Regions from separate parts of the Homo sapiens genome. Here regions 1 and 3 are each reported to be linked to region 2. The links are microRNA targets in miRTarBase. Many come from high-throughput screens and were not tested one by one. Region 2 holds a microRNA gene; each other region holds the end of a gene's coding sequence.
What was found. Region 2 holds the annotated microRNA hsa-miR-5580-5p (UGCUGGCUCAUUUCAUAUGUGU, at 2,380-2,401, opposite strand). A microRNA usually pairs through its seed, bases 2 to 8, with sites in the 3' UTR of a target mRNA and lowers its output. Matches are read on the target gene's strand: a 7mer-m8 pairs with bases 2 to 8, a 7mer-A1 pairs with bases 2 to 7 and ends in A, and an 8mer does both.

Region 1: miRTarBase lists ADGRB2 as a target of hsa-miR-5580-5p. Seed matches in the 3' UTR shown: 7mer-m8 at 244-250.
Region 3: the mRNA of MICAL2 is a reported target of hsa-miR-5580-5p. The part of its 3' UTR that is shown has no 7-base or 8-base seed match.

What each region holds. Positions count from the first base shown.
Region 1 is chr1:31,724,266-31,727,585 of GRCh38, reverse strand. It overlaps ADGRB2 (adhesion G protein-coupled receptor B2), which reads left to right. Exons shown (of 33, transcript NM_001364857.2): 33 at 1-469. The coding sequence ends at 166. Among named protein-coding and RNA genes, the nearest start is that of COL16A1, 22 kb to the right of the region's middle. RefSeq lists an enhancer at 3,277-3,320.
Region 2 is chr14:53,946,084-53,949,427 of GRCh38, forward strand. It overlaps MIR5580 (microRNA 5580), which reads right to left and starts at 2,401; the gene lies at 2,344-2,401. RefSeq lists enhancers at 1-265, 266-796 and a silencer at 767-816.
Region 3 is chr11:12,261,999-12,264,998 of GRCh38, forward strand. It overlaps MICAL2 (microtubule associated monooxygenase, calponin and LIM domain containing 2), which reads left to right. Exons shown (of 28, transcript NM_001282663.2): 27 at 482-539; 28 at 1,562-1,787. The coding sequence ends at 522. Among named protein-coding and RNA genes, the nearest start is that of MIR6124, 100 kb to the left of the region's middle.

The DNA of each region.
Region 1 (3,320 bases), not on the chromosome of region 2:
GCGCCCCAGCTTGTCCCAACATCGGCGCCATCAGAGCTGGAGCACCTTCAAATCTATGACACTGGGCTCGCTGCCCCCCAAGCCCCGAGAACGGCTGACTCTGCACCGGGCAGCAGCCTGGGAGCCCACAGAACCACCGGATGGTGACTTCCAGACAGAGGTGTGAGTGCCACGCTGGACTGCCCACTGCATATAAATATATATATCTCTCTATTTTCACACTCCACTTTGGAACTACCCAGGAGCCAGCGCCCTCTCCCCTCTCCCGAGGGCTGGGCAGGGAGGCGCCGTGGACTCAGCCAGGCTGGGGGAGCCGGACATGGCTTGGCCTGGGGTCCCAGGGCCCTTCCTTGTTTCTCAGAGGCCCCTCAGCCACTGGAACCCCATCTTCAGCCCAGCCTGTCCGTCCCTGTCCCGGGCTGGGGAGGGGGGAGGGGAACTTTGTTGGGAATAAACTTCACTCTGTGGATTTTGCTGCTGAGCTGTTTGCTTCCCTCAGGTAAAGGCCCAGCTCTGGGACCCCGACTTTGTTTCTGTCTCCTGGGTTGAACTCACTTGATCTCATCAGATGATGTGATGGGGTCAGTCCAGCCCTGCCTGGGAGGGGGCGGCCTAGGCTCTGACCCCATCTTTGTCCCTGACTCTCTGGGTGATTCATCCTTTCCCCGATCTGGGCTGTGGGAAGCAGATTGGGAGTGTGGGAGGGGACCTCTTATGGCTGGCTTTTCCTGGTGGCTGTGATGGTCGTGGCTGCCATTCACTGGGGCACAGAGGCCAGACTTCCTGGGCTAGAGCCAAGACAGAGCTTAGTGACCTTGGTTTCACATCTGTGAAATGGGGATGGTAACAGTGCCCACCTCACAGGGTTGTTACAGGGATGAAACAAATTCCTATTTGTAAAGTGTTCAGCAAATACCTGGGACAGGATAAGCTCTTGAAGGGTTAGCTGTGACCATGTGGCACCAGTCTCATGCAGTGCTCTAAGCTAGGAGCTTCACACACATATCCCCTGGCCCCTCACAACAACCCTGTTGGAAGGTTTTAGGTTGCCCATTTTGTGGATAGGAAAATGAGGCCAGAGATGGGCAGTGCCCGGCTCAAGGCCACAGTCAGAGGCAGAGCTGGGACTTCAAACCCACGCTTGATGGAGGTGGGGCTTCAGCTCAGCTTCCTGGAACTTGACCATGGCTGCAGGGGAGCCGCAGATGCTGGGTTGTGGTGGAGATGCAGGTGTTGGACCGGGCCAGGGCTGGGGTGGGGTGTGGGAGCCAGGCTGGCTTGGTGCCAGGGGCTGGAGGCTTGTACTGAGTTGCATTCATTACATGCCTGAGTGAGCGGATCCTTGCTCAGTTTTCAGGCCCCCAGAAAGAGGGGGCACAGGATTACATCTGGAAACATATTCTGGAGTCAGGCAGCAGCTGGAGCAGAGGCACGGTTAGCAGGGTCACAGGTCCTTCTTGCCTGGTCATTTAGCAACATGGGCACCTCTGGGCCCCTTCCCAGGGACTCGGAGACACAGACAGGTCCCTGGAGAGCTGAGGGAGGGTTAGGTGCTGCAGCAGCCTGGGTGGGAGTGACAGAAGTGACTGGCTGCTGGGGTAGGGGGTATCACAGATAATGGCCTGCCCAGGGGTGCTGGAGGAGGGGCGGAGGCCTCTTCAGAGTTTTGCAGGCCTTGATGGCACAGGCTTGCTCTGGTCTCATTCCAATCCTGCCTGCTGTGAGACCTGGTCAGAGGAGCCGTGCGGGCAGAGTCCACTCAGGACTGTGCTTCTAGACCCTTGGAGCTCCTGCGACTCACTCCTCCGCCTCCCTCCCTTCGGGCAGCCCCAGCACTTAAGTGTACACAGAGTTCACTCAAGCACTACCTCATTTGATTCTTCAAGGTAGGTATTGTGACTGCCCCATTTTGGAGATGAGTAAATCGAGGCTTGGAGAGGGGACATGACTTTCCCAAGCTCCCACAGCTCAGCTTGTGACTGGGACTTGTGGCTGGGAGTGGCAGAATCCGATACCAGCCAGCTTAGGCACCTGGGAGCTTTGTTCACCCAGGAGCGCGCTGCCGCAAGGACAGCAGTGGGCAAGTGCGGCTGGCCTTCGTGATGGGACCCGGGATCAGGAGTGCCACCGCATGTTTCATCCTCTCCTGGCATTCTCTCGAATGTGTGTCGGCTTCATTCTTTAAGGCCTCTTCCCCCTGGGCCTGCCAGGCTTCCTCCTCCCAGCTCGATCACTCAGCATTGCCCCTAGAGGGGAAGAAACTTTCTCTCTTGAATTCCAATTAGAAAACCCCCAAGGAAGGAAGAGCTCTGGCTGGCCCCAGGAAGGAGGCTGGGGCACTGTGATTGGCAGTCCCATCAGGAACCATGGGGGAGAGGGAGAGGGAGGAGAGGGAGCAGGTCTCTGAGAAAGGGGGGCCTGTTCCTAAAAGGGGGTTTGCACAAACAAAGCCCGACCATGTACCAGCAGATCCTACTCCACATTCCTTCCTCTGACCATCACCTAAAGGCCCTCTTAATGCCTTGTCCTGTGCTCGCACCTCCCTCCTTCCTGGTCTTAGGCTCCGCTGGTCACCACCTCTGGGGCCCTCTGGGGCTGAGGTGTGATGTGCACGTCCCTGCCCTCCTGTCCATTCTTGCTTTGCATCTGGTTGAAGAGGAAGTTTAGTATTTACCTTGTTGATTCTGCTCAAACACAAACCACAGCTACCTGCAGAGGCCTCTGCTGGCTTTGAGACCAGCCACTTAGCTTTCCTGGGGTGGGGGCTTTGTCCCTCCCTTGCCCTCAGTCCCTGCTCCCCCAGGCACTGACTTGCTGCGTGACCTTGGACAGGCCACTGGACCCTGTCTGACATGGGTTTCCCTATCTGTAAAATGAGTTGGCTCGATCTCCCTTCCATTTGAGCTAATATCTAACAACCTGTCATTTCTTTCCTGGACTCAAATTTCTCACATCATTGCCCTCATTTTCTCTGCCTCCAGTCTCCAGCCCTTCATCCACATGGCCCAAGTGATCTTTCCAAAATGCAGATCTGGCCAGGCCACTGCTCAGATGCCTTCTGTGGATCCTGGAATTAGCCTAGAGTTCAAGGCCCTTGGTGATGTGGCCCTTGCCTCCCTCCTCTGGCCCATCTCTCTGACCTCCATGCCTGTGCATGCACCACTCCTTCTGCCTGAAACTCCCTCCTCCTCACAGAGGGGAAACTCTCCTTCAGCCTTCCAGACCCAGCCCAAGTAGCCCCCTGTGTGATGCTGTCCCTGAACTCCCTGGCCCAGCAGTCAGCACTCGCTGGGCCCCCACAGGCCTTGGCATGCACTGTC
Region 2 (3,344 bases):
GCTTTATGCTCCTGGCTCACCTTTGGAGAGGGAGTGGGGGCGGGCACGGTGAGTCCCCGGTCCAGAGGCCCTGCGGAGGTCAGCTGAGGTGCTGTCATTATGTATCATGGCTTGGCATCTCATTTCTGAAAGCAATCGTCCAGCTCCACTCTTGCACACCCGTGGCCTCTCCCGTTCACCTCCGTCCCCCGACTGTTGGGGAGCGGGGCCCTGGCTGCAGTTCAGCTGGGACCCAGGGCTCTCCGTGTCCCCAAGGGGCCCAAGACAGCGGCTCAGCCTTCAGGGCCAGTCTGCAGGTCCGACCCTCACCCAGCGGGCCTGTTTCCCACTCGCCCACGTCCCCGCTCCCATTGAGTCACCCCCATATGCAGGCCCACTGTGAGCTCGGAGGCAGGAGAGCCTCGCTCCCTAATTCCCGCTCTCTGCCCCCTACAGAAAACCCCTAAAGGTCTCGACCCCTCTTAAGCCCCTCCACCCCGGGGAGCCTTCCCCTGCAGACTCCACGCTTCTGCGCGGCCTTTTGACCCCATTTCGCATGAAATCTGCAGAGCGACCGCCCCAAGGACCAGCGAGCGCTAATCAGATCCGTCTGTGTCTGCAGAGCTTCACCTGAGGCCTGGGTCCCCGAGGGCGGATGAGCGGGCCGGCTCTCGGGCCCGGGCTGGGGGACCCGCAGTCCGCGGTCGGCGGGGATGGGGAGGGGTGGCCGCCTGCCGCGCGGCTCCCGCGGGCCGTCGCCAGGTGCACGGTCCCCCTGGTCCCCCGCAGGGAGGACGCCCCCTGGTGCCCCCGCCGCCGCCGGGCCTGGGAGCTCCAGAGCGGGCGGGAGGCGGGGTCGGCGGGGCTGGATCTTGACGCCAGTCCAAGGCCGGGTGACTACTGGGGTCTGCCCGCGCCGCGGACGCGCCGAGCCCTCTCAGTGTGGCGCTGCCCGGCGGCGAGGGGGGTGTGGAACGAAGCACGGTCAAGACAGAAAACAAAGTCAGCAGGTCACCTGGCAGGTTCTGGGCGAATTATGCAACGAAAGCAGGGGAATGTTTGATGCGTCCCACTCCACACCCCCCCAACCTTTTTTTTTTTTTTTTAAGCTCCTAGGAAGCCGGTTCCAGTTTAAGGGTTGGGTAGGGATCGACCAAGCAGCTCCTCTGATGTGGTTACGACTTTGCCGAACTCCTCAAGGGCGAGCTTCCCTCCCCATCTTTCTTTCAGTAATAGGAACATTACTCTGGAGAAAAAAAAAAAAAAAAAACATGAATGGGGTGAAATGGTAGGCTTGATCCAAAAGCAACGCCGAGAATCACCCTACGACTTCCGTCAGGTACTGAACTGAATATTAGGCAAAAATAGTAAATGCCGAAACCTAAATCACACACATCCAATTTTTTTTATTTTTTTTTTAATCTCCCCGGGTCTCAGGACTAAGCTTTCAAACAGAATTTAAAGAGTTAACGCTGGCCATAGCTCTTTGTTTTCCATGCTAACATTTGTGGCATTAGGACTATTTTGTTAACTAGGTATATGCAATTCACAGAATTTCACGGTAAATTCCCCAGACCAAATATTTGGCTGAACAAATAAACAACATTATCCATTCCTGAAAATAAGCCAGTAGGAGCGGGGAGGATGGAGGAAGGGGCTGGTTGCTAGAACTGGACAGCCACAGGGCTCAGTACTGGCCCTAGGATAATTTGTTCAAGTACTGGAGATCTACTGGTTCCTTTTCAATGACATCGACGTTTCAGAAAGTTGCTAGAAATTGGGCAAAACAAAATGAGGCTGCCTGAGGGCAATCTATAAGGGGCTTCCCTAAATGATTTATTTGAGCTCCATACCATTAATCAAAGGGGCAGCGACCTGGGGGGTTGGAGGGGTGGGGGAAGGATCCCTTTTTGCGGGGAGTTTTGGAGGAACTGTGTAGTCTTGCTGCCTTTGCCTGGGGCTCTGATGTCTTCTCTCCACCTGCGCTCTCCGGGGAGCTGGGGTTTTGGCAACCACCCCGCTTCAATTTTTATTGGTTTCCACTAAGCTGCTCCTTTTGGAGGAGTGTAGGACTTCAGTAATTAAAAACAAAAATGAATCCTGCTTCACCCACTCCACTCCCAGGAGCGTATGTAAGAAAGTGTGTACAAGAATGCAAGGGTGCACACCCCACCTAGAAAAATGCAAACGCCAGGAGTGTGCACCACACACATTCTTTGGGTGCACACACCACCAGCAACAGCAATACTACCGCTCATATCTACACCTTCATGATGGAGAAATGCGCTATCAGCCTTCCCCACAGAGAACATACAAAGACACTAAATGTTTCTGCTCCAAAGGGATCCAAAGGGATCTTGGTCTGTGCTGGCTCACTTCATATGTGTGAATTTTCTCAGCACACATATGAAATGAGCCAGCACAGACCAAGATTCAAGGCTTAATTTAGTTGTTGGTGGCAAGTAAGAAAAAGCAAAGGCCTCTCCTCTGCTCCTCTTAATCCCTACACCCGTCATTCCAGAAAGGCATTTATCTGCCTGCTGGGAGCCCTTAACTGAGGGTACATTAGCATCCTCCTTTTTATTAACTTTGTCCAAAAATTGAGCTTTTCCCTTTAAGAAACCCTAGCACAGAACATCAGATCTACCTCTTTCTGCCCAAGTCCAGGGAAGAGGGTGTGAGGGAGGCAGTACAGAGCGAAAAGGAGAGTTGACATTTGACTCGAGATTTCTGTATAATAGTGGGACACCTTCACAGTGCCTGCTTAGAAATTCTGACCCTTTAGTATCTGACCCCATTGTCAACCCCCACCCAGCCCAATCTGTTGGGATCCTAAACTTGATGAAGGCCTTCACATTGGGAAAAGAGGACAAGGGAAAAAGTCAAGAAACAATGGGAAATTCTATCAAGTGGCATATTAAAACAGTAGTCATCAAACTTTTTGAAGGTAGGGTACATTATTTGTTACAAAAAAAAAAAAAAAAGACAAAATAGCAGTGCATGCCTGTAATCCCAAAGAGGCCGAAATGAGAAGATTGCTTGAGCCCAGGAGTTCAAGACCAGCCTGGGGCAACAAAGAGAGAACTTGTTTCAAAAAAAAAAAAAGACAAAAGAAAAAACAAAAGAGTCCTACCTGGAGAAAAAAAAAATAAGTTTAAAAACATGCCTTCACACACACATTATGATGTTAGTGTACAAATTAGTTTTGATTTGGAAATATCACATTGGTACCTGTAATAACTGGAGATACCCTGAGGTATCATGAAAGCAGAGGTGGGTATCATTTTTCTAGGGTTGAGACCTCATCACGCTCAGCTGTGATACACCTCAACAGGTGAGTGAAACAGAAGATGTACAAGGGGCCT
Region 3 (3,000 bases), not on the chromosome of region 2:
CGAGTCGGAATCTCTGACTGTCGTGTACAGCCATAAGGAGACTGGTTTGAATTACTGTGGCGAGACAGGGCGTGCCTGTCAGAAATCTGAGATGTTTGTACGCTCTGAGATGTTGAACCTTTCTGGTGGGCAGCACCGACACCCAGGGGTGGACCCCCGAGGATGAATGCCTCTAGGCCTCCGCAACATATTCAAGAATGAATGGGAGACGCTAGAGTAAAATGGGGGCAGAGAGGATATCAGGGAGCAAGATGCAAACTGTGTGCATCCACTCTCGTAAACAAGTAGCTGGTCACAACCAGAAAGGTTCATCTCTCCTAAGCAAACAGCGACTCTTTCAGAGGAAGTTTCCCTCTTTCAATCGTGGCCTTATTTTCAACTCCGGTGCCTTCTCGTGATGTTAATCATTTCCTTTTTTCCCCACACTAAGCTCTCTTTTCTATCTTTCTCTCTCTTTCCAATCTTACGCCATGGCCATCAGTTCATTTCAGCCTTCCAGTGCTACACCCACTTCTTGGCTGACACACTTCTGCTCTAAGGTGACTGGTTTTCTTGCCAATTTTCAAAGAGTGGTACTAACCCCCAACCCGCTTTCCGCACCCCGTCCTCTCCGCCAGCAGTACTGGTTGCACTAACTGTGAGTGTCTTGCATACTGATGGACTCATTTGGTGGCATGGTTGGCTAACAGCATGGCGGGGGGTGTTCAGCTTGAGACCCATGCCTGTGTTCATTTCCCATGGAGCTGGCAGCCTGGTCTACCCCAAGTGCATGCCCCGCCTCTCCTCTCTCCCTTGGGTCTGCCTGCGTGCATGCTTCTCCAGTTGCGTCTGCGAAGCTACCTACTTTCTTGGGAGGGTCGACCTTGATCATGAAACAATACCATGAGGGGGCCTCTGTCACCTTTGAAAAGAACACTTTTTGAGCAGCCTCAAAAAGCTCATACATACCAGCGCCTTCTTAAATTGGCTCTAATGTAAAGATTGTTAATGTCATTTATCAAAACCATAGGTGATTATTTGGAGGGATTTAAAAAACTTAATTACTCTCAGGCCTCATCCCAAGCTTGACACATGCTCTGTAGGTTGAACACATAATCACAAATATTCTAGCAAATGCTGCCTTGGTTGCAGCCTGCACTGTAGACCCAAGGGTTTTGCTGTGGCTCTTCTTATCTCCCTTGGCTCATAAAGCCCCAGATGATGCCAGAGCTTCAATTAGAGCCATCATCATCCCAGGCAGGGATATCTTTGAGAAATGACTCAGTTCAGCCCCAGGCCCCTGTGACTCTGCTTAAAGCACACATTTCTGCTGACTCTTGTACCTGGGGCAGCAGGATAATCACCAACACACTCTTAACGAGAAACAACACACCAAGCACCGTGGAGCTGTCCTAGGCAACACTCGCGGTCTCAGGCTGCGGTGGGCGTCTGTCCTGCATGTGGCCCAGACCACCCTGACCCCCGGGCCTGCCTGCCTGGCCCTGCATGCTGCACGCTCACTGTATTTGTGCAGATCCTGGCCAGTACAAAGTCGTTGCTCTTGTCTTATCTTCTCTTACAGAGTCTCCCTCCCTTTATAGAATGTCAACCAAAGAGTGCCCTCCTCCCCTCTCAGCCTCCTCTTTAGCTAGCCTCCCCATCTCATCACAACGCATGTCTGTGACCTTTGGTAATCATTTACAGTGCCACACGGAACCCTGTATTTTGCACACAGCAAAACAAACAATGTTTAGCTTTATTTATGGTATTTGATGCTGTAAATGGAAATAAATATTGTTCTTTATAAAGCTCATTGTTTCCTCTCTTCTTTGCCGTGGAAGCTTCTAAAACCTCACACACAGGGATTGGTGTAGGGGGTTCATTTTCCCTAAACTGCTGGCGGGACTTGCACTTGAGGTAACACAGGACTCTCTGGGGCTGCGCTGGGCACTCTGAAAGGAAATATTACCCCTGGGTAATATTTGGAAACTGTCACCAATGCTCCTGGGCTAGGCTTTGGGATCTCTTTCTTGAACACTCATTGTACTTTGCTGTTCTAGATGCTGGGCATAGTGGGTGAGGGTCAGTGTCCCCTCAGCGATTAGAAGCAGACTGTATTGATGGCTACCTTTACCCGTTTCCCCCGCACACCCAAGCGTGGCTCTACAGGAGAGCTTTCCCCATGAACCTTACACTAATTTAGGTTCCTATTCAGCAAAGGTTGGTCTGGAACACTTCACGCTGGTGCACAGCTGAGTGGCAAGTGGAAGGTAAGTAGGAAGGACTGGGCATCAATATTAGGATGGCAATGAAGTTGGCAGTGTGCTCATCAGATGGAGAGCCACTGCCATCCTAAGAGACCTCTCCTGTCCCAAAGGCTCAGGGTATTCAGTATCTATGGTGTGAGGCCCTGCCCTAGCACCACCCGAAGTATAGTATTCATGGCAGGCCCCAGGCAACTCCAGGCTGTGTTTAAGGGAAAGATTTGGAGCCTCACTTGGCTATCCTGGGCAGTGCCAAAGTCATCTGGTCCTCAGCCTCCCCTGGGTGGGATGCCTGCCATTTCCTGGCTGGGCGTAGCTGGGCGTAGCTGGGCTTCTGACAGTGGTATGAAAAGTCACCTGTGAACCTCATGAGGTCCCTGGCACCTCCAAATGGGTGTTCCTGAGGCTCTGGTCTCTGATGCCTGGATCTACCTTCAGAGCTGCCTCAGGTCATGACCAAGGGTTCTGTACTCTTACCTGGGTGATATATTCCCACTTCCATTTAAGGAGGGATGTTAGGGACTGTAAGTCAGGTGCTGGGCTGTGCAAGTGACTCATTCCTTTATGCATTCATTTATTCAGCAAATGTTTGTCCTAGGCCTTATTCTAAGCCCTAGGTACAGCAGGGAACCATGCGAAGTCCCCACACCTCCCTGCACCTTAGAGATGTGGCTCAGTATTGCTGTACTAGATGAGATCTGTTATATTTAACTGTGCATGTGCTCATTTGTTTGCTCAACTCTGTGATATTTCCTGA